2 linked regions of the Homo sapiens genome follow. The protein of the gene in region 1 purifies or fractionates together with the protein of each later gene. This does not show direct contact. Each region holds a gene or a part of one and is shown in the gene's direction. Other genes may lie near its edges.

The links.
Region 2: the proteins of SLC7A6OS (region 1) and AAR2 purify together in Homo sapiens (affinity purification with mass spectrometry; 3 studies listed by BioGRID and IntAct, with this or other methods). This does not show direct contact.

The regions. Positions count from the first base shown.
Region 1 is NC_000016.10:68,305,235-68,317,223, reverse strand, and holds the start of SLC7A6OS (probable RNA polymerase II nuclear localization protein SLC7A6OS), read left to right. Parts: upstream 1-6,277; 5' UTR 6,278-6,297; coding exon 6,298-6,489; intron 6,490-6,610; coding exon 6,611-6,889; intron 6,890-11,989. Other genes in the region: PRMT7 (protein arginine N-methyltransferase 7), read right to left, coding at 1,150-1,244. UniProt on the Homo sapiens protein: Directs RNA polymerase II nuclear import.
Region 2 is NC_000020.11:36,237,515-36,249,327, forward strand, and holds part of AAR2 (protein AAR2 homolog), read left to right. Parts: intron 1-2,306; 5' UTR 2,307-2,354; coding exon 2,355-3,111; intron 3,112-7,182; coding exon 7,183-7,412; intron 7,413-11,813. UniProt on the Homo sapiens protein: Component of the U5 snRNP complex that is required for spliceosome assembly and for pre-mRNA splicing.

The DNA.
Region 1 (11,989 bases):
CTCTGTTACCCAGGCTGGAGTGCAGTGGCACAACCTTGGCTCACTGCAACCTCCACCTCCCGAGTTCAAGTGATTTTCCTGCCTCAGCCTCCCGAGTACCTGGGATTACAGGCGCCCACCACCACTCCCAGCTAATTTTTTTTTATAGAGACGGGGTTTCACCGTGTTGGCCAGGCTGGTCTCGAACTCCTGACCCTCAAGTGATCAGCCGCCACCACCCCCTCCACCGCCCGCCCGCCCGCCCTTTGCCTCCCAAAGTGCTGGGATTACGGGCATGAGCCACCGTGCCTGGCTTTTGTGCTGTAATTTTGTATGTGCCTGTCTCTTCCACAAAACTGCATGGTCCTTGAAGATGAGAACAGGATCTTCTTCATCTGGTATCCACAGCCTTAGCACAATGCTGGCACACTGAATGCACTTAATGATTGCTACATAACAACTCACATACTTTTTTTTTGAGACAGAGTTTCGCTCTTGTTGCCCAGGCTGGAGTGCAATGGCTCGATCTCGGCTCAACACAACCTCTGCCTCCCAGGCTCAAGTGATTCTCCTGCCTCAGCCTCTCAAGTAAGCTGGGATTACAGGCATGAGCCACCATGCCCAGCTAATTTTGTATTTTTAGTAGAAACGGGGTTTCTCCATGTTGGTCAGGCTGGTCTCGAACTCCTGACCTCAGGTGATCTGGCCACCTCGGCCTCCCAAAGTGCTAGGATTAGAGGCGTGAGCCACTGCGCCTGGCCAACAACTCACATACTTTTAAATATTTCTTCTAAGGGAAAAAAAAAACCATTTTCATTTTTTTCATTCAAAAGAATTTAACCATATGATGAACATGTCACCATTTCAGTAAGGCAAGTAAATGATTCAACTTCATCAACACTACTGAGGCTTGGGTTTTCTTTGCTCCGTTAAACAGATGCTGAGGCTCTGCTAAGGCTGCTACATAATGTCTGACTCTCCAAACAGGCATGATTTTGCCTAACTGCTACATATACCTACCTGGCTGAGCAGACCTGCTCAGGACCAACACCAGCCCTCATCATAAGCACTGGGTGACAGCCTAGCCCACGCTCAGACTGGAGCCCAAGGCATCTGCTTTGAGATCAAGTGCCCCACCCAGCTGCAGCCTGCTGTAAACCAACCCAGTACCTTGCAATCTCCTGGTGGTAATCATAGTGTTCATCCTCCTCCAGCCACTCCACAGACCCCGTGGTCGGATTGGCCCGACTGCAGAAGATCTTCATGGTGCCCACTAGCTCCCCAGTTTTAGCACAGAAAAGCAGCCTTGCCAGTTGAGTTCTTGTGGACAAGTCTGACTGTCAGAAATCTATTAACATCAGAAGGAAACAGGAGGTATATAAACAAACGAACAGAAAAAAAATCTATTAACAGCACAATGCCCCAAAATGTGGAGGGGGGAAGGGGAGACAAAAGCGGGGAAAAAAATCAAGAAACTGACAAAAATGTCAAAGCCACTGATAGTATTTGTTAATCGATATTGTAAATGTTTCCAGCAGGAGTTACTTGGTTTTATATTCAGCATATAACATTAAAAAACTACAACAGATTCATACAGATGTCTGGAAACTTCAGCAGGCTTCGGTGCTTCCAAAAGGTTCAAATGAGCCTCACAAGTTCATCTAGGTGCAGCCCTCAAGGCTAGGAGAAGAGATGGGGTACTGTTAAAGAAGTGCCACCAATACTGCCTTCGTATGCTGAACCCTTAGCTTAAGGAAAAATATGAAGATAGAGCAAGTCAAACCAGGAAAACTTTCATCTAAACAATAAATTACAGTCACACATAAACCTAAAAATGGATAATCCCAGGAATATAATGATGAGCAAAAACAGCAAATCACACAACACATGCAATACGATTCCATTTCTATGAAATTTATAGCTATGCAAAATGGAGTGATACGTTCTTCAGGGATCACACTAAAAAGCATAGCAAGGAATCAGGATAGTTAACTCCTAAAAGAGAAGGGAAAGAGATGGGATCAAGGAGGGGTACGCAGTGGACTTCAAAAGTATTGTTCTTTTTCTTAAATTGGGTGGTGGGAACATAAATGTTCACGATATTAGCATTCTTTTTCTTTTTTTTTTTTTTTAAAAGATGGGGTCTCGTTATGTTGCCCAGGCTGGACTCAAACTCCTGGGCTCAAGCATTCTTCCTGCCTCAGCCTCTCCAGTAGTTGGGACTACAAGTGAGTGCCCCACACCCAGCTAATACTAGCATTCCTTATGCTTCATTATTTTTTATAGTGATTACTTCTTATCTATTCAAATTTTAATTTTAAAAGCAATTTTTAAAAACCCTCCATCATCTAAAAAAATTTTGCTTCAAACAAGTAAAATGTCACCAGATTCACGTCTTGTATGGCCTGTCTCCCCAAAGAGATCTATTTCTGGGAGGGAGAGAAACACCACCGCTCAAAGTCTAAAGGCACTCCTCAGCAGGTGTGGGCTCTCCCAATACCCATCCCTCTTACCATGCAGAAAGCAATAGGTGTTCTACACTGCCCTTCCTTTCTTGTTAAACATTGGTGCATCTTCAGGAAAACTTAGAAAGAATGCCTACTCCACATATCCCTAAACATTCCTATGGCATTTTATTGGCCAGAGTTTTTTTTCTTTTGAAGTTATCTAGAGTAAGTAAACATGGAATTCTTACACAAATAGATGAGAAACAGGCTGGGCACGGTGGCTCACACCTGTAATCCCAGCACTTTGGGAGGCCAAGGCAGGCGGATCACCTGAGGTCAGGAGTTCAAGACCAGCCTTGCCAACATGGCGAAACCCTCGTCTCTACTAAAAATACAAAAATTAGCCAGACATGGTGGCGCACGTCTGTATTCCCAGCTACTCAGGAGGCTGAGGCAGGAGAATCACTTGAATCCAGGAGGCGGAGGTTGCAGTGAGCTGAGACCGCACCACTGCACTCCAGCCTGGGCAACAGAGTAAGACTCCGTCACCAAAACAAACAAACAAAAAGCAAATAGATTAGAAACAATCTTCCCTGAACAAACTCAGGCCGGCAGTCAGGTTCAAAGTAGACAATTTGTCCAGGTAAAACTCTACTACTAAAATCTCAGCATACCTATCCCCTAGTCTAATGATTTTCAAACTTTCTGATAACCCCAGTAAGAAATATACTTTAAAATGAGACTCAATACACATACCTGCATGTACGCATACAACTAAATGTTCCACAAAACAATACTGACTTCCTACGAACAAGGCCCTCTGATATGCTCTATTTCATTTTTATTGTTTTTAAGAGATGGGATCTCCCTGCTGTCCAGGTTGGATCACAGTGGCTATTCACAGGCATGATCATTACACTCTACAGCCTTAAACTCCTGGACTCAAGCGATCCTCCTACGTCAGCCTCCCAAGTAGCTAGACTACCGGCATGCACCACGGCACCCAGCTGCACTTTTACTTGCTGGTCAGGACCCATCAATGGGTTGCAACCAGCAGTTTAACAACATTGCTATAATCCACTTTATCTCATGTACTAACATTTATTTTACAGACAGAATATCTAGAACTGTCAGAATCTGTAATGTGCATTAGAAAACTGTGTCCAACAAATGTTGGAGTAGAGAAAGAAATGGCCATATCTGACTGAATGTTCAAGGAAGGCTTAAAAGGTGGATTCAGCTGAGGCAGGAGGAGAAGGAGGGGGTTGTGGACGGAGAAGGCATTTCATCCAATTAGAAAGGCTTAGACAATCATGCACATTATATCAATCAGTTTAGTGAAGTAAAACTGGACCAGGTGTCAAACATATCAATAGGATCCATATGGTAGAGTCCTGAAATACTAATCCTGTGGTCCATGTGGAATCAATTCTGAAGTCACTTCAAGGTTAAGAGTCATCGTTTTGTAGTTCATAAGCGTGATGACTGGGTGTTCATGTGCCTGTGTCAGACGTGCCTCCCTCAAACCTTTACTACATTGGCACGTTACCCATTTGAACTGGAGGAAAAAAAAAACTTATAGTGAAGAACTTTAATCCATAGGATTCCTTTCTTGTCTGTGATGTTGCTGAGTCTAAAACCAGGACCACAGTGTCTTTTCAAAACCTGGAACAGCCCAGGCACGGTGACTCACGCCTATAATCCCAGCACTTTGGGAGACCAAAGCAGGTGGATCACCTGAGGTCAGGAGTTCGAGACCAGCCTGGCCAACATGGCGAAACCCCGTCTCTACTAAAAATACAAAAAATTAGCCAGCATGGTGGCAGGTGCCTGTAATCCCTGCTACTTGGGAGGCTGAGGCAGGAGAATTGCTTGAACCTGGGAGGCAGAGGTTGCAGTGAGCCAAGATCGCGCCACTGCACTCCAGCCTGGGCAACAGAGCAAGACTGTATCTCAAACAAACAAACAAACCTGGAACTATGTCTTGTGTTAACAATTTTATGAAGGCATGAACCTCTTCTGGTGGGCACTACACACCTTCTCTGGCTGAATGCCCTCATCCATTATTATTTGTTCTCTCCCAGAAGCAGTCTACACTACAGATTCAGGAGATATTCTCTGAACCCCTCCTCATTCTCCAAGAGTTGTAAACTTGCATGGCCATTTACAAGGAGGAAATAGAAACCACCATGCCAAGCCCTAATTGTATTAGCCGTCAGACTGCAGAGCAGATGGTCCACTACATTCATTCAAAATGTATTTGCTAGGCGGTGGTGGCTCACACCTGTGATCCCAGCACTGTGAGGGGCCGAGACGCAAGGATATCGAGTCTGGGAGTTCCAGACCAGCCTGCGCAACATAGTGAGACCCCGTTCTCTACAAAAAATTTTTAAAAAAATTAGCCGGGCGCGGTGGCCTGTGCCTGTAGTCCCAGTTACTCCCAGCTACTCGGGAGGCTGAGGTAGGGGAATCACTTGAGCCCGGGAGGCAGAGGTTGCAGTGAGCAGAGATGGCGCCACTGAACTCCAGCCTGGGTGACAGAGTGAGACCCTGTCTTAAAAAAAAAAATATATATATATATATATATATATAAATATACATATATTAAAATTAAAAATTACCCGAGTGTAGTGGCGCGTGCCTGTAGTCCCAGCTACTCGGTAGGCCGAGGTGAGGATCGCTTGAGCCCAGGAGGTCAAGGCTGCAGTGCGCCTCGATCACACCACTGCACTCAGCCTAGGCAGCAGAGTGAGACTCTGTCTCGAAAAAATAAAATAACAAAATTTATTAAATACCTTCTATGTGCCAGGCACTATATTAGGGACTGGAGCCACCACCACAAGCTAGAGAAGACCCTTGCCCTCCAAGAGCTTAGACTCTAATGAGAGAGTAATACAAATTACAGACTACATGAATGCAAGAAATACACAGAGCGTTGTAGAAAGAGAAAACCAAGGTTACAGAAGGACTCTGAGGAAACTAGCATTTGAGATCTACAAGACAGACCGGGATAAAAGTTGGGGAAGAGTTTTTACAGGTCAGGAATCCTTACCCCAACTTTCCCAAGAAAAGGCCCTAAGGTAGAAAGAACTAGGTTGCATAAGCAAAATGTGCCAAAAGCCTGAGCGACCGAAGCACTTTTGCAGAAGCCCCCCGCTCCTCATCTCCTATCACATCTTCTGCTCAATCAAGCTGGGCCTTGTCGACTTCGGAAAGGCGTTTGGATTTTGTTCTAAAAGCACTGGGAGCCACTCAAGAGTTTTAAGCAGAAGCGTATCTACACTAGGCTTACGCTTTTACAGGACCACTCTGGTTGGCGTGTAGTGAATACACGACTCTCCAATTACTCAGAACAGTGAGTGGCAAAGACAACAGGTCTGGCAATCAGAGAACTCGTGGCCCAGTTAGGGGTGCGATGGTTGGAGCTACTGCGGTCTCTGTGGCTGAGGGGAGGCGCCAGGCACGAGTACTGCGACAGAGCCCCGCGAGTGGCAGGCACCCGGCTGCACTGCAGAGCCGGGGCCAGCCTAGAACCCCGCTCTCCTGCAGGCCCGGGTGTCCCGAGCTGCCCCACGCGGAGGAGTCCAAGTAGGCCCACGCTAGGCTCCTCTGCCGAAACCCTGGTGCCAAGGACACCATGCTCGCTGCACACAGAACCCCAAAGCGACCCCACCTTCCCAGCATACCCAGCGCCTCACCCGCCGCGGGAAACCCTCCGCTCGCCTCCGCTGCTACCACTTTTACCGCGGCCAGCACGCGGGGCGGGACCTCGCAGCGTCGAGGAGCGTGCTGGGGGGCGGGTCCTAAAGCAGAACTGGAAAGCTATCCCATCACACCCCGCGAGCTCCCACAGTGCTCAGCGGCAGCCACTATGGAGGCCGCCAGGACCGCTGTACTCCGGGTGAAGCGGAAGCGCAGTGCGGAGCCGGCGGAGGCTCTTGTGCTCGCTTGTAAACGCCTCCGGAGCGACGCGGTCGAGTCAGCGGCACAGAAGACGTCGGAGGGTTTGGAGAGAGCGGCGGAGAATAATGTCTTCCACTTGGTGGCCACTGTGTGCTCCCAGGTATTGGGCGTGGTGCAGCTGGTGTGGAGGGCATCTTCGGGTGCAGCCGGTACGAAACCCGATCCCTGACCCGCTCGCGAACTCCTGCTTACGCTGGCCTCCGTCCCCTGTTGCCCCCTAGGAGGAACCAGTCCAGCCTCTCCTGCGGGAAGTTCTGCGCCCGTCACGGGACAGCCAGCAGCGTGTCCGCCGTAATCTCCGCGCCTCGGCTCGGGAGGTCCGGCAGGAGGGCCGCTACCGGGTGCTTTCCAGCCGCCGATCCTTGGGGACCACCTCGAGCGGCCAGGAGTCCGAGTACACGCCGGGGAACCCAGAAGCCGCCGGGAACTCGGGCTTTCAGTTGTTAGACCTTGTCCACGAGGAGGGAGAACCTGAAGCCGCCTCTGCAGGCTCCTGCAAAGTGAGTATGCCCCTGAAGGTGGTCGCTGGGCTTCTCAGGATGGTAATGCAAGAAGACTGGGCCCAGTCGCAGCACAGTTTCATCTTAAGGGGATGGATGATCCATCCGGCGTGACGGCCTCATTTTACAGATTTGGTTGTTCATCCAACATGTGTTTACTACGTGCCTACGATATGCCAGGTATTTTTTTAGATTCTGTGGATACAGCAGTGAGGACCTAACATGCAGGTAGACAGAAACAGTAAACAAGTCTATTCAGTGTCAGATGATGATAAGGGATGTAAGGAGGCGGGGAGACAAAGCAGGAAGAGTGGTGCCACTTCAGTGAGAGTGTCACTGAGGAAATGACATTTGAGTGAAGACTTGCAGAAGGTGAATGGCAGGGTATTCCACATATCGAGAGGACTTCTAGGCAGAGAACCTGAAAGTAAAGAGGCCCTTAAGCCGTTTCTTTGCTCCTTGCAAGGTGCCTGGAGCCCGGTGAGCTAGAGGAGAGCAGTAAGGAATTTGAGGGGAGGATGCCTGCTAGGTACTTGCAAGGACATTGCCTTTCACCCTGACTGAGATGGGGATCACTGGAGCAAAATAGAGATAGAGCAGGTAGGAAAATTGATCAAAGAGAGGTTAAAGGAATAGTCCTGGATAGCATATCAAGTTTGAGGTAGATTTAGGTCTAGAATGCAAGTTTTCTCACATTTAATCCAGTGCTTTTCTTTATATTACATTTGCTAACTTCATTTGCAATCACTTCCAAAAAAAGTCTACTACATGCAGCAAAACTACAGAAATGGAAAATTCTCCTTGAGGCTGGGCACAGTAGCTGACGCCTAATCCTAGCACGTAGGGAGGCCCAGGCGGGAGGATCACTTGAGCCTGGGGAGGTCAAGGCTACAGTGAGCCATGATTGTGCGGCAGTGGCATTTCAGCCTAGGTGACAGAGTGAGACCCTGTCTCAAAAAAAAATAAAATACTCCCTGTAATCCCAGCGCTTTGGGAGGCTGAGGCAGGAGGGTCGCTTGAGGCCAGCCTGGGCAACAAAGCAAGACCTTGTCACTACAAAAAGGAAGAGGAAATTAGCTGGGCATTGTGGCACGCGCTTGTAGTCCTAGCTACTGGGGAGGCTGGGGCAGGAGGATCACTTAAACTCAGGAATTAGAGATTGCAGTGAGCTGTGATCAAGTCACTGCCCTCTGGTTTGAGCAACAGAGCAAGATACTGTCTCTAAAAAAAAAACCAGAAAATTCTCAACATAAAGTGTGCCCTCTCTTTTTTTTTTTTTTTTTGAGTCAGAGTCTCACTCTGTTGCCCAGGCTAGAGTGCATTGGCATGATGCTGGCTCACTGCAACCTCCAACTCCCGGGTTCAAGCAATTCTCCTACCTCAGCCTCCCAAATAGCTGGGATTACAAGCGTGAGCCACCACACCCAGCTAATTTTTGTATTTTTAGTAGAGACGGGGTTTCGCTATGTTGGCCAGTCTGGTTTTGAACTCCTGGCCTCAGTGATCCGCCCGCCTCAACCTCCCAAAGTGCTGGGATTACAGGCATGAGCCGCTGCGCCTAGCCAATATGCCCTCTCTTGATAAACATTTTTATAGAACTCATTTTAATTATTTTTGCAACTTAAAACAATTATAATTCAAAATGAATCCACAAGCAACAAGCAAATGGTACTAGTGTAATTGTTTATTGTTGTTTTTGTTTTGTTTGAGATGGAGTCTCGCCCTTGTCGCCCAGGCTGTAGTGCAGTGGCGCGATCTCGGCTCACCGCAGCCTCTGCCTCCTGGATTCAAGCAGTTCTCATGCCTCAGCCTCGCGAGTAGCTGGGATTACAGGCATGAGCCACCACACCCGGCTAATTTTGTATTTTTAGTAGAGACGGGGTTTCGCCACCTTGGCCAGGCTGGTCTTGAACTCCTGACCTCAGGTGATCCACCCGCATCGGCCTCCCAAAGTGCTGGGATTACAGGCGTGAGCCACCACGTCCAGCTGGTGCTAGTGTAAGTGGATAGCAATTTGTGTATGATGTCCATAGCCACATCTTTCACCAAAACATTCCAGACTAATGCATGACTTACAAAATGTGTAAAGTAAACCAATGCTCCGTGGAATTGAATCAAGTAAATAGTTCACTAGGCCGGGCACAGTGGCTCATGCCTGTAATCCCAGCACTTTGGGAGGCTGAGGCGGGTGGATCACTTGAGGTCAGGAGTTCAAGACCAGCCTGGCCAATATGGCAAAACCCCATTTCTACTAAAAATACAAAAATTAGCCGGGCGTGGTGGCGGGCGCCTGTAATCCCATCTACTCGGGAGGTTGAGGCAGGAGAATCGCCTGAACGCGGGAGGCAGAGGTTGCAGTGAGCCAAGATTGCACCACTGCACTCCAGCCTGGGCGAGAAGAGCAAAACTCCATCTCAAAAAACAAGAGTAAATAGCTAATTTAATTTTATAAAGAAAACTAGGAGATAAACTGATGACCGATATGAACAGAGATTTTTCCAGTAAAGCAATACCGACTCTAAACATACCAAAAATGTTTGCACAGAGTAATTATAGGGGAAAAATGAATTTAAGCTTAAAGCATGCTTGAGGTTTTATGCATACTAGACTAGCAGGAAAAAAGTAGTTGATAGCAATGCTGGCAAGGCAATGATTAAAAGCGTACACAATTGTAGGAATAAAATTGATGCAAGCCTTTTGGAAAACAGGATGGCATGGGAGCCATGTTTTACATATGTAAATTTATTATTGTTTGGATCTAAAGCCATGCATAATCTAGGAAAATTTTAAAATTAAAAATTTCTAAGGAAATTTAAAAATGACAGCATTTCTATGTTATGTTACAATGAATTTCTCCTTAAATTGACACAATTTACATTTTAAGCAAATAAATTCCTATTAGATAAATTTAATAGGAAATTTAAAAATTAAAGGACTTCAGTTCCTTTTAACTAGTAGTCTCACCTCCAAGATTTATCCTAGGGAGATAATTCAGCAGAAGCAAACAGCTAAGCTAAGCTATGATATTAACAAATGCTACTGTTGATTGACTAAGTAATTATGTCAAATAGCGTGCTAGGTACTTGTTATATTTTCTTTTAATTTAACTCATTTAATCCTCACAAAAACCTTATGAGTGAGATACTTTTCAAATGCAGGAAATGGCACATTCATTGCAACACTATACATGGAGGTTAAAAATTATATCCAAGAGGTTGACACATACAACTGTCTGGACCCTTAGAACTGATAACCATGAAAACTGATTGTGGGCGAAAATATATATGTTTAACAGTACAAAATGCTGTGTGTAGTGAAACTGAAAATATGGGCTGGGCTCAGTAGTTCACACCTGTAATCCCAATACTTTGGGAGGCCAAGAAAGGAGCACTTGAGCCCGGGAGTTAAAGACTGCAGTGAGCCATGATCATACTGCTGCCCTCCAGCCTGGGCGACAGAGCAAGACCCTGATTCTGAGTGAATGAATGAATGAATGAATGAATGAATGAATACACATGGACATAGACTTCAAAATAATTTTCAGCAAGGGTACGGTGGGTTACTCCTATAATCCTAGCACTTTGGGAGGCTAAGGCAGGAGGATTGCTTGAGGCCTGAAGTTCAAGACCATCCTGAACAACATAGCAAGACTCCATCTCTACAGAAATAATAATAATTATTTTTCTTCTAGCTAGGAGGAGTGGTGCACACCTTTAGTCCCAGCTACTCAGGAGGTTGAAACAGAAAGATCATCTAAGGCTAGGAGTTCAAGGCCAGTTTGGGCAACATAATGAAAACCGCCTCTTTAAGCAATAATAGGCCGGGCGCGGTGGCTCATGCCTGTGATGCCAGCACTTTGGGAGGCCAAGGTGGGTGGATCATGAGGTCAGGAGTTTGAGACCAGCCTGACCAACATAGTGAAACCCGGTCTCTACTAAAAATACAAAAATTGGCCAGGCATGGTGGTGCGTACCTGTAATCCCAGCTACTCAGGAGGCTGAGGCAGGAGAATCACTTGAACCCGGGAGGCAGAGGTTGCAGTGAGCTGAGATCACGCCATTGCACTCAAGCCTGGGTGACAAGAGCGAAACTCCATCTCAAAAAAGAAAAAAAATAATTTATGCTCATTATGGGAAATTTGAAAAAATATAGCAAAGGAGGAAAATCTCCCATTTTACCATCAACCCAAAAGTAGGTAGAATAGAACTGGTTTATTTCCTTCTGAGTACAAAATTCTGTATCTGTCATTTTTCTGTATTGCTAGTCTTGTACCTTTTTTTGAGACAGCGTCTCGCTCTGTTGCCCAGGCTGGAGTGCAGTGGCATGATCACGGCTCGGTGCAGCCTCCACCTGGGCTCATGTGATCCTCCTGCCTCAGCCTCTCAAGTAGCTGGAGCCACAGGCCTGCGCTACCACACCCAGCTAATTTTTGTATTTTTTGTAGAGACGGTTTTGCCATGTTGCCCAGGCTGGTCTCAAACTCCTGGGCTCAAACATTCCTCCGACCTTGGCTTCCCAAAGTGCTGTGATTACAGGCATGAGCCACTGTGCCCAGCAATCTTATATTTTAATGGCTGCATAATTTGACTGAGTGGAGGGACTTAGGGGTTGGAGCCAGAACTTTTGTCATAGGTAACTTTAAGTTTGCTCAAGGTTCTGCAGAAAAACTGGCATCTCTAGCTTCTTTTTGACTTTGGAGCAAGGAAGAATTCCTTAGTCTGTAAATTATAGCATTGGTCTCCCCTTGTCTGCCTTGGCCATGGGATCTTCCCCATTTTCCTGCGTGGTGTCTGCTTGGAGCTGTGCAGTGTCCTGTGATGAACCTATCAAGAGGAGCCATCTGCAGCATGTCCCTGTGGTTAATAAACTGACCCATGCTACCAGGCCCCTGGATAATACAGCCTGTCAGCACTGGAGCACATCTTACCTGGGCCATTTCTATTCTGGGGCATTGCATTTCAAACTGTTCTTTCCAGTAGAAAGACTATAGGTGAGCCCATTCCCAATTTGTGGTTAAAAGTAGGATGTCAATATATGGCAAGCCAAATGATGGGCAATGGTAGAGGTCACCAGGAAACACCTGTTGGCTTCTACAGGAGG
Region 2 (11,813 bases), on another chromosome or scaffold:
CGTTTTCCTAGCATCTCCTCTGTGCTAGGCCCTGTGCCAGCTGCTGGAGATATAGTGAATAGAATTACAGACTGGTGGAATTAGCATGAAAGAAACGTCATTATCAAGGAGGAGCACACAGATGTCACAAGGGAAAATGGCTAATTGATGAGCTGTTATTGTAAATGGAATATCTGTTCATTCAGCAAATATTAAATACTTTCTGAATTCAGGATTACAAATAGGAAGATGATACGTATTATTATTATTATTATTATTATTATTATTATTATTATTATTATTATTTTGAGACGGAATTCGCTCAGACCCCCAGGCTGGAGTGCAGTGGTGTGATCTCAGCTCACTGCAACCTCTGCCTCCCAGGTTCAAGCAATTCTTCTGCCTCAGCTTCTCAAGTAGCTGGGACTACTGGCGCACACCACCATGCGCGGCTAATTTTTTTTGTATTTTTAGTAGAGATGGGGTTTCACAGTATTGGCCAGGCTGGTCTCAAACTCCTGACCTCATTATCCATCCGCCTCGGCCTCCCAAAGTGCTGTGATTACAGGCGTGAGCCACCACGCCCGGCCTGTTGATACGAATTATTTAGAGCAGAGTCTTTCAAACTTTTATGACTGTGACCTACAGTAACGAATACATTTTATGGCACAACCAAGTATACACACAAACACACAAAGCTCCAGAAAACAGTACTTAGCTTTACTACTCATGATGTATTGTGATATTTCAAAAATTCTGTTATTTTCGTTTAAAAAATAATGCTGGTTGAGACCTTCACATTGATTTCCTAATCCACTAATGGATTGTGACTTGCAGTTTGGTGAAACACAAAGTGCTGATTCAGGGTAAGAGTCATTTGTGGTGGTTTTGAGGTAACAATGATAAAATGTGCTCTTATTTTTGGAAAAGGATTGGTCTTCCTTTCTGCACTGCTTTATTTAAAGTAAAAAGGGTAAACAGGGCCAGGCATGGTGGCTCACACCTGTTATCTCAGCACTTTGGGAGGCCGAGGCGGGCAGATCACTGAGGTCAGGAGTTCCAGACTAGCCTAGGCCACATGGTGAGACCCTCTCTGTACTAAAAATACAAAACTTAGCCAGGTGTGGTGGCACACACCGGTAGTCTCAGCTGCTTGGGAGGCTGAGGCACAAGAATTGCTTGAACCCGGGAGGTGGACGATGTAGTGAGCCGAGATCACGCCACTGCACTCCAGCTGGGGTGACAGAGCGAGACCCTGTCTCAAAAAAAAAAAAAAAAAAAGTAAACAATTAAACAGGCAGCTCGTTTTTCTGTGTGTGAAATTTTGACGTCTTGGCTAGATTGGAATTGCCTAGAGGGCAGTGACTGTCTTAATCTGTGATGTTTTTTGGGGGCCTGGCAAAGATCCTGGCACAATGCAGGCACTCAGTGAGTATTTGTTAAATTAGTCAGGTAGGTATCTTAGGACTAGAAGGTTGCATAATGGTTTGTTTACATTTGTTCATGTTGGTACCATTCTTGCCGATATCCCAGAGGCAATGTCTGGGATATTCAGAAGTAGGTAAAATAAGTGTACTAAGCTCTTTCTCTTCTGGCCAGCTTTCTCTTCCTAGGCTAGCTTTACCACCTGAATTCATTCTGGATGAATGGTCCAGAGCCACCACTGATTGTGGGCTCTTTGGGAAGTTGTTTCACTCCCTGGAGTTTAGGTTTTTTATGAGTGAAAGAAGAGGGGAGATTTGTGGTAGGAAAGCTCTCTAGACCCTGAACAAACTTTAGATGCTGAGCCTCCACTTGCTACCGTCTGTCCATTTCTGGGCCTTCCCTGAGGCTTATGGGAAACTGGATATGTACTTGATTTAATCTTTCCAAATCTTTTGGGATAGTTTTTTGGCAGAATTGTAGTTTTAAATGATGTAGGCATATAGTTTAGAGTGACCTGTCCAGGCATTTTCCACCCTCACCCTCTGTTGTGAGAAAGAGATCTGAGAAGATATTAAGAATGGACGGTGGACAGAACACTGGCCTGCAGGCAGGGTATCCAGATTCTAATTTGGGTCCTGGTATGACCATGAGCATGTCACTTTTCTTTCACTGGTATCTTATAGCTGTGAAGTGAGTGTCCTTGCATGTTAAGCCAAAACACAAAAATCCTTTCCTTTAATCCTCGTTTTTCTCATCTGTAAACTCAATGCAGGGTTGTCATGAGGATTAAGGGAAATAATTATGTCAGGGGTCTAACTCAATATCTGGCACATACAGAATGCTTAGCAAATGAAGCATCTTTCCCCCACGTTCTGATTAACTCTGGTTTCTTTCTTTCTCAGCTGTTCATCAAAGAAAAAGGGTTCTTTTGGTCACCCACCACTGGCCCCATGGCTGCCGTGCAGATGGATCCTGAGCTAGCCAAGCGCCTCTTCTTTGAAGGGGCCACTGTGGTCATCCTGAACATGCCCAAGGGAACAGAGTTTGGGATTGACTATAACTCCTGGGAGGTCGGGCCCAAGTTCCGGGGCGTGAAGATGATCCCTCCAGGCATCCACTTCCTCCACTACAGCTCTGTGGACAAGGCTAATCCGAAGGAAGTAGGCCCTCGTATGGGTTTCTTCCTTAGCCTGCACCAGCGGGGGCTGACAGTGCTGCGCTGGAGCACACTCAGGGAAGAGGTAGACCTGTCCCCAGCCCCAGAGTCTGAGGTGGAGGCCATGAGGGCCAACCTCCAGGAGCTGGACCAGTTCCTGGGGCCTTACCCATATGCCACCCTGAAGAAGTGGATCTCACTCACCAACTTCATCAGCGAAGCCACAGTGGAGAAGCTACAGCCCGAGAATCGACAGATCTGTGCCTTTTCCGATGTGCTACCTGTGCTCTCCATGAAGCACACCAAGGACCGCGTGGGGCAGAATCTACCCCGCTGTGGCATTGAGTGCAAAAGCTACCAAGAGGGCCTGGCCCGGCTACCAGAGATGAAGCCCAGAGCCGGGACAGAGATCCGCTTCTCAGAGCTGCCCACGCAGATGTTCCCAGAGGGTGCCACGCCAGCTGAGATAACCAAGCACAGCATGGACCTGAGCTATGCCCTGGAGACTGTGCTCAACAAGCAGTTCCCCAGCAGCCCCCAGGATGTGCTTGGTGAGAAGGAACAAGGCTCTTTGGGAGTGGGCCAAGGGGAGGATATTAGCAGAGGTGTTTTGGAATAGGGAGTACATCTTGTGTTAGTCCAGCAGCAACTAAACCTGGCTAGGAGGCTGAAGATACAGGTGTGTCTTTACCCTTAGCCCTGGAGATTTCGATTTGAGAGATCTGGAGTGGGGCTTCCGCAGTTTCTATCTGTCTAATAAACAAACATCCTAGGTGAACCTGGTGCAGATAATCTTCTGTTTGGGAACCACTGATAGAGCCCAGTCCTACAGAAGGAAAAGATTTGGCCCACTGAGTGGCTGAACTGAGACGAGAACCCAGGACTCTTGGTTTCTGGGCCAGACCTGTGTTCGTTGTAGCCTCTCACCTGCCTGCTCAGTTTGCTCCTGACCCTCAAGATGTTGGTCTCTCAACTGGCTTAGAACAGGACAGTGATTTTTTTTTTAATCATTACAGTTTTTATTGTTACCTTCCCTTTTATTACAAAAATGATAGATAATAATCATAAAAGAAAAACAAAATTTACTTCAAATCTCACTACTTAGAAATAACCATTTAAACAGTTTGGTATATTTACGTTCCTTTTTTTCTGTGTATTTCTATGTATTTCATTTCAATGTCTTCTCTGTTTATTTCTATGTACTTCCTCTCAGTCTTAAAAATTCAGTATATGTGTCTGTATATATATGAGTTTTTATAAAAACAGGATTGAAGTATATTATTACTTTGTAATCTGCCTTAATATAAATGTTTTTTCATGTCACTAACAGTCACTTTTTTAGTGGCTGTTTCATGTTCCATAGTTATTGGACCAGTTCTCTGTTATGGACCATTGAGATGCTCCCTGTTTTCTCTATTGTATCATCAAGTGGCCGGGTGTGGTGACTCACACCTGTAATCCCAGCACTTTGGGAGGCTGAGGCCGGTGGGGATCACCTGAGGTTAGGAGTTCGAGACCAGCCTGGCCAACATGGTGAAACCCCATCTGTACTAAAAATACAAAATTAGCTGGGTGGTGTGCACCTGTAGTCCCAGCTACTCTGGAGGCTGAGGCAGGAGAATCACTTGAACCCAGGAGGCAGAGGTCGCAGTGAACCAAGACCTCGCCATTGCACTCCAGCCTGGGCAACAAGAGCCGTCTCAAAAATATATATACATATATCATCTAGTGAACATTCTCGTGTGTACTTACACATACATTTAGGGATAGAATTGCTGGGTCAGACTGTGCATGTTGCCAGGAGAAGGTTTTTGCATCCTTGCTGGCTGGTAGGAACCTGTTGCCCATCACCTTTGACAGCATTGGGCATGACAGTTTAACAAAGGCCTCTTCCAATTGGATAGCTGAAAAATGGCACCTTGTTTATATTTCTTTATTTCTTAAATACTAGTGACAGCAAATATGTGTCACATTTTGAACAGCTATTTTTATATATATTTATAAATTTTCCAGGTAATTTGCATATTTTCTTGTTGGAAGTTCAGTGAGAAATTTGAATGTAGGACTTCTTTTTTTTTTTTTTTTTTTTTTGAGACAGGGTTTCGCTGTGTCGCCCAGGGTGGAGTACAGTCAGTCACACAATCATGTCTTACTGCCACCTCAACCTCTCGGGCCCAAGTGATCCTTCTGCCTCGGCTTCCCAAAGTGCTGGGATTACTGTGCCTAGACAGGACTTTTTATATCATTGGCTCAGCTAATGATATAACCTATATTTTAACAGGTACATCTTTTGTTGTTGTTGTTGTTGTTGTTGTTGTTGTTGTTGTTGTTGTTGAGACGGAGTCTTGCTCTGTCGCCCAGGCTGGAGTGCAGTGGTGTGAGTTCGGCTCACTGCAAGCTCCGCCTCCCGGGTTCACGCCATTCTCCTGCCTCAGCCTCCTGAGTAGCTGGGACTACAGGCGCCCGCCACCACGCCCGGCTAATTTTGTTTTGTATTTTTAGTAGAGACAGGGTTTCACCATGTTGGCCAGGATGGTCTCGATCTCCTGACCTCATGATCCACCTGCCTCAGCCTCCCAAAGTGCTGGAATTACAGGCGTGAGCCACCGCACCCAGCCTTTAACAGGTACATCTTAATGCATTAGTATTTTCGTATAATAAGTAACTTTTAAAAGTCTGGCTTAAAAATGAATAGAAATCCTGTCTTTCTACCTCTTAAACATTTCAATTCTTCAAAATATATCTTGCGAAAAGGTCTGTTACAGGAATAACTTTGTTGGTTTTTTTTTTTTTTTTTTTTTGAGACAAGGTCTCACTCTGTGACATGGGCTGGAGTACAGTGGCATGATCACAACTCACTGCAGCCTCAACCTCCTGGGCTCAACTGAGCCTCCCACCTCAGCCTCCCAAGTAGGTGGGACTTCAGGTGTGTGCCACCACGCCCAGCTAATTATTTTTGGTTGAGATAGGGTCTCCCTGTGTTGCCCAAGCTTGTCTCAAACTCCTGAACTCAAGCAATCCTCCTCCACTGACCTCTCAAAGGGCTAGGACTATCCCTGCCACCGCACCTGTCCAGGGATAATTTTGAATCTACATCACACCTCTTTGAAAAATATAATTTAATTTTAGATAAAGTCAGAAATGCACAAATTTAATAAATGTCCTAAACGCAAATAATAGGCTAATATTTAGTTTCACAAACCAAGTAAAGCCAGCTGAAGAAGCAAATCATTAACCTATATTATACAAAGAAAATTTGACTATATTTGAAAATATTGGTCAGAAATCCAAAATTTCTAAACCAGGTAGCTATTCACACAAATCAAACTTAGTTCCGTATGCTTAGGAACAGGGAGCTAGTTTTTCCAGGTCTCTGGAGGTGGCACAGATCAAACGCCATGCATTTAAAGAGGTATTTGGTGTTGAGTACATCTCTTCTTTTTATGGCCCACATGTATGTATACCTCATTAAATTTCCAGCCACCTTTGAAGTAGAGAGAATGCCTGTGATGAGGAGCAGTATTCTGTGGTAACCAGAGACCCAGTTACTTGCCCAGGGACAGTGGTGTCTGGATCATCAGGTCTCTGTTTGAGATGGGCATCTGATAGAAATTGGGAACATAATATTTTTTGAGTGCTACTTTGTGCCAGGTCTTATTCTAAATGCTATACATGTACTATATCCATTCATGTAATCTTTGCTACAACCCTCAAATAAGGAAATTGAGGCCTTAATAGATTGAGTAACTTGCCCAAGGTCACACAGCTGCTAAGTGGCAGAGCTAAGATTTGAAGCTAGGCAGTTTGGCTCCAGAGCCCATGCTCTTAGCCACCAAGCTGCTCATAGAGATTAAATCACAGAGCCCTGTGGTTAAGCAAACAAAAATAATCTGCCTGGCAGGCTGACCCTGGAATAAGTACTCATGAATTTTTCTTTTGTGGGAGGTTCCAGAACTGTTCCCACCCAATGGAGAATCTGTTTTATCTTTCCGTTGCCCACATTGTGAAGCATTAGATGTGTGGCCTTGGGCAAGCCCTTGACCTTATCTATGAAATGAGGCAAATACCATCTTCCTGATCGCCTTGTGGAGTTGGGCTGAGGGTTACATGGTATAGTGCAGTATTTCCTGACCCTGGAGCAGACCATCCACATTAGAATCACCTGGGGAGCTTGTTAGAGCTACAGATACGAAGGCCCCATCATCTCTCCTCCACCAGAACCTCTGAGGGTGAAGCTTGGGTAGCTTTACTTTTAACAGACTCTCAGTGATTCTGATGGGCAGCCAGGTTTGAAATCCACTTGGCATAATATCCATGAACACATTTTGTAAACTTAAAATGCCAGGCAAATACTGGGAATACCTCTTCTCTAGCAGTCTGATTTTATAGAAATCCAAAGCCACAGGTTGGTTTCCCATGGCTTGAATTCATAGCGGTTCAGCAGACATCTATTGAGTACCTGTTAGGTGCAAAATCTCCTGCCAGGCTCTGCAGGAGTGACAAGGATAAAAGCTCATCTGTTGCTGAGGTCCAGTGGAATTCATGGCCTTGTGAATAGTGATGGAGAGTGTCAGCTGGTCCTCCTCTCCCTCAGAATCACTTCTCCTCTCTGCACCTTTCAGGTGAACTCCAGTTTGCTTTTGTGTGCTTCCTGCTGGGGAATGTGTACGAGGCATTTGAGCATTGGAAGCGGCTCCTGAACCTCCTGTGCCGGTCAGAAGCAGCCATGATGAAGCACCACACCCTCTACATCAACCTCATCTCCATCCTGTACCACCAGCTTGGTGAGATCCCCGCTGACTTCTTCGTAGACATTGTCTCCCAAGACAACTTCCTCACCAGCACCTTACAGGTGAGCAGTCTTTCTGACTGAGCTGATGCACATGTGGGTCAGAATTGAGGCAACAGTATGTGTTTTGTTTCTCGCTATTCTTCCATGACCCCAAAATTTTTAAATTTCAGTTTCCTAGTCTTGGGATATTTCCTGCTTTTCTCTCTCTTACTCAATTGTAAGTGCCTCTATGCCAGAAATTTTCTCTCTGTACCACCCTCTCCCTACACCTCGTCCCCAGAGTGCCTAACACTGGGGTACTTGGATTTGAATTCCTCCCACTGCTTTGGTTTACTCAGCTTAAAACAGCGTTTCTTTCTCCCTGTAGCCATGAATTGCTACAACCCAGTAAAGCAGAATTTTGAAGTTTGTTATTCCCAGTGAAACATCTGCAGCTCCTTAGATCTCATTTAAGCATTAAAATAACTTTGATTTCCTGTTCAAACAAAATGTGCCAGTTTCTGCAGAGATTCTATGACAGAAAAAGTGAAATTTGCTTTTAACTTGGCAATTAAATTTTCATTATGAGTGGTAATTAGGAAAGAAGCTTCAAACAACTTACAATCTTCATCCTATGCTATTTCCTCCCTTTGCAAACAGATTAGTCCTTTATGTACTTGGGACAGCCTCTGTCACTCACATTGTGTAACTTTCTCAAGAATAGAAGAGGCAGAAGCTGCCACTGTCAGTTTCCATACTTTCCCTCCCATGAGCTTCTTTCTTCTCCCTGTGTGTAATACCCCCATGAGGCCTGCTCCATATAAGGCAGCCTTTCACCAACCTTCCAATCCCACTCGGGGTAACAGAAGGGACGAGCATTCGTTAAATATTGGGGCTGGGCGTGGTGGTTCATGACTGTAATCCCAACACTTTGGGAGGTGAAGGCAGGAGGATCACTTGAGCCCAGGAATTAAAGACCAGCTTGGGCAATATAGTGAGACCCCGTCTCTCCAAAAATTAAAAAATTGGCCAGGTATGGTCATGTGCACCTGTAGTCCTAGCCACTTGGGAGGCTGAGACAGGAGGATCACTTAGCCCAGGAGTTTGAGGCTATAGTGAGCAATGATTATGATCGTGCCACTGCACTCCAGCCTGGGCAACAGAGTGAGACCCTGTTCACTCATTGAATCCCTTTGGAGCCTTGTAAGATGGGGGTATTATTCCCATTTTACAAATGGGAACACTTGAGAATGGTTAAATCACTTACTTGAAGTCATACAGCTGGCAGGTGGAGGTCAGGATTTGTACCCAGGCCTGAGTCTTGGTTTCCTGCCTGTGCTTATGCCCTTGTGTAGTGAACACAGTGTGAATCCCCCAGAAAGGATTCTTGATTGACATCAGTGAAGACTTCATCGAGGTCCTGTTTCTCAGAGGTACAGAACGCTTTTCTAAAGCCAACCTACTGTTGGATGAGTCCCTGTGAGCAGGCATCTGACTTAAAGCTGGCAGTTGAAGGACCTGTGTAAACCATGGCAATGAGTCAGTCAAGCGCATGATTTGAGCCTGGTCTGTTCCACTCAGAAGAGCTATAAAACTGTCCTTTTACTGGTTCTTCATATAACAGAGAAATTAAACCCCTTTGTCCTTCCTCTGTGGGGAAAATTTTCCCCAAAGGTACTGGTTATGGGTTGTGAGGCAGTGTGAGGAGGCATTAGCCTGCTAACTTGCCTCTGGCAGTGGCTGCTTCCCTCCTGATGCACGTTGATGCGTCGCACAGACACAGGAGGGCCACGGTGTTGCTGGCTGTCCAGACCATTGTTAGCACAACCAGCAGCTGAGCTCTATAATTGCCAGGCTTTGTTGCCAGCAATGATTTACAAAGCAGAAAGTGCCCAGCTGGATTGCTAGATGCCCAGGTGGGTTGTGCAAAGCTGATGGTTGGAAACATTCAGTCTTTGAACTTTTCACCAAGAAAATTCGATGTCATTATTTGGAAAAATCCAGGGCATGTGCCAAAACAAAACAAAACAAAACAAAAAACACATGTCTTTGAGCATTCTTCATATATAACATTCTACTGAAAGTGTTGAGGAATATATATACATGTGAGTTAGCCAGGGTTCCTGCCCTCAAGGGATTTGTTCATTGATTTAGCAGGTAATTGCTGAGCATCTGCTGTATAGAAGACTCTGTTCTAGAACTGGGAATATAGCTGTGAGCAAGACAGAGTCATTGTCTTGACTCTTGTAATTTGAGAAAGTTAACAGAAAGTTAACTAGCCAAGTAACTCCAGATAGCAGACTCTTGTATTTTGAGAAAGTTAACAGAAAGTTAACTAACCAAATAGCAGTAAGCAGGTAGCAGTAAGTGTTTTAGAAGGCAGTCCTGCCCTAGTACCATTTCCCTAGCCCCGGCCTTTTGGTCTCACCTAGACTGCATCGGAGTTTACCAGCCTCCGTGCTTACCAGTTACCCCATCTCTCTCCCACACTGCCACCTGAGGTGCTGCTCCATAATGCAGCTGTGATCCTGCTTCTCTGTGGCTCCTCATTGCGTGGAAAATTAAAAGCCTAAACATTGGTCGCAAAGGCCATTCTGATCTGGCTTCTTATCCTGTTCTCCAGCTTCTCTTTCCTCTCCGTTTTCCCCCATCAACTCCAGCAACAGTGGTCTCTTTGCAGGTTCCTGGACAGGTTATGCTGTTTCATGCTTTTTAAAAAAAAAAATTGTTGTAAAAAACAGCTGGTCCATGGTGGCTCACGCCTGTGATCTCAGCACTTTGGGAGGCCGAGGCTGGAGGATCACTTGAGGTCAGGAGTTAGAGACCAGCCTGGCCAACATGGTGAAACCCCCATGTCTACTAAAAATACAAAAATTAGCCAGGCATGGTGGTGGGCGCCTCTAGTCCCAGCTACTCAGGAGGCTGAGGCAGGAGAATCTCTTGAACTGGGGAAGCAGAGGTTGCAGTGATTCGAGATTGCACCACTACACTCCAGCCTGGGCAAAAACAGTGAGACTTTGTCTCAAAAAAAAATAATAAAAATAAAATTGTGGTAAAAAAAAACACAATTTAACATATATGCCCTCTTAACAGATTTTCAGTGTTCAGTACAGTATTAACCATAAGCATCATGCCATCCAGCAGATCTCTAGAACTTCTTCATCCTGCATAATTGAAACTTTATACCCATGTTTCATACCTTCTTGCCGGAACCTGATTTTCCCTCTCCCTGGTACATATTTGCTCATTCTACAACATGCCCTCAAGGCATCCCTCTCTGTCAAGCCATCCCTCCTCTCTCTGTCTCAATCTCTGTCTCTCTTTCACTCTCCCCTTTCCCTACTCTTAGCTTACTTTGAACTTGTCGCTATTATATTGCATGAGATGTGCTTGCTGAAACTAATATATTGTCTGCCTGACTCCCGCACTGAGTCATGGGCTCCTTTTACACGAGGCCTATTTTTTGTTCATCTGGTTATCTTCTTCTTCTTCTTTTTTTTTTTTTTTTGAGACATAGTCTTGGTCTGTAACCCAGGCTGGAGTACAATGGCGCGATCTCGGCTCACTGCAACCTCTGCCTCCCGGGTTCAAGTGATTCTCTGGCCTCAGCCTCCCAAGTAGCTGGGATTACAGGTGTGCACCACCACGCCAACCTAATTTTTTTGTATTTTTAGTAGAGATGAGGTTTCGCCATGTTGGCCAGGCTGGTCTCGAACTCCTGACTTCAGGTGATCCACCCAACTCACATCTGGTTATCATCAATATGTTGTCAAGGCCTAACATTTATGTCATTTGGTGTTATTGGGTGTTTTTAGATGGATAGAGTTCATAATTCTTGTGACAATGTAAATATCATAGGTATAAACAGTGGAGTCTGATCAAAGGGCGTTAGGAGCACCAAAGAGGGAGTGGTTAATTCTGACTGGGGTTGAGATTTGAGGCTTTATGCAAGGGTGGAAGGTGGGGGCATTTGACCATGCACTTGAGGGATGACTGAGATTTCAAAAGGCACAATGTGGAGAAGGATATTGTAAAACTTTTTTTTTTTTTTTAATGGAGAGTCACGTTGATGCCATGTTGGCAGTGAGAGTCCAGTTCTCCACACAGAGGCATTCACTCAGGGCATTTGTGACTGAATGAATCAGCCCATAAAAGCCTTCCTCAGCCAGCCGCCTGCCCTCCCAGGTAGTCAAGTAAGTGGAACTGGCTGTCTTACTTAGGAGCTTAAATGGCTACTACCCATGGAGAGGGACTGGTGTTTGTGTGTGTGAGCACTTAAAGACAGCCACATTAGCATGGATAAAATCAGCCGCGTAATGGAATTCTCTTAGCCATTAATTTTTTTTCAACTTTCCCATGTGAGGCCCTTTTGAATAGAAGCCACTGGTTTTTACAAATCCCTTGGATTTCACTTGAATAAAAGGGATTTGTTTTACAAAAATAGATGCAGTTTTTTCTTTTATTTAAAGCAACGTAAGTCAC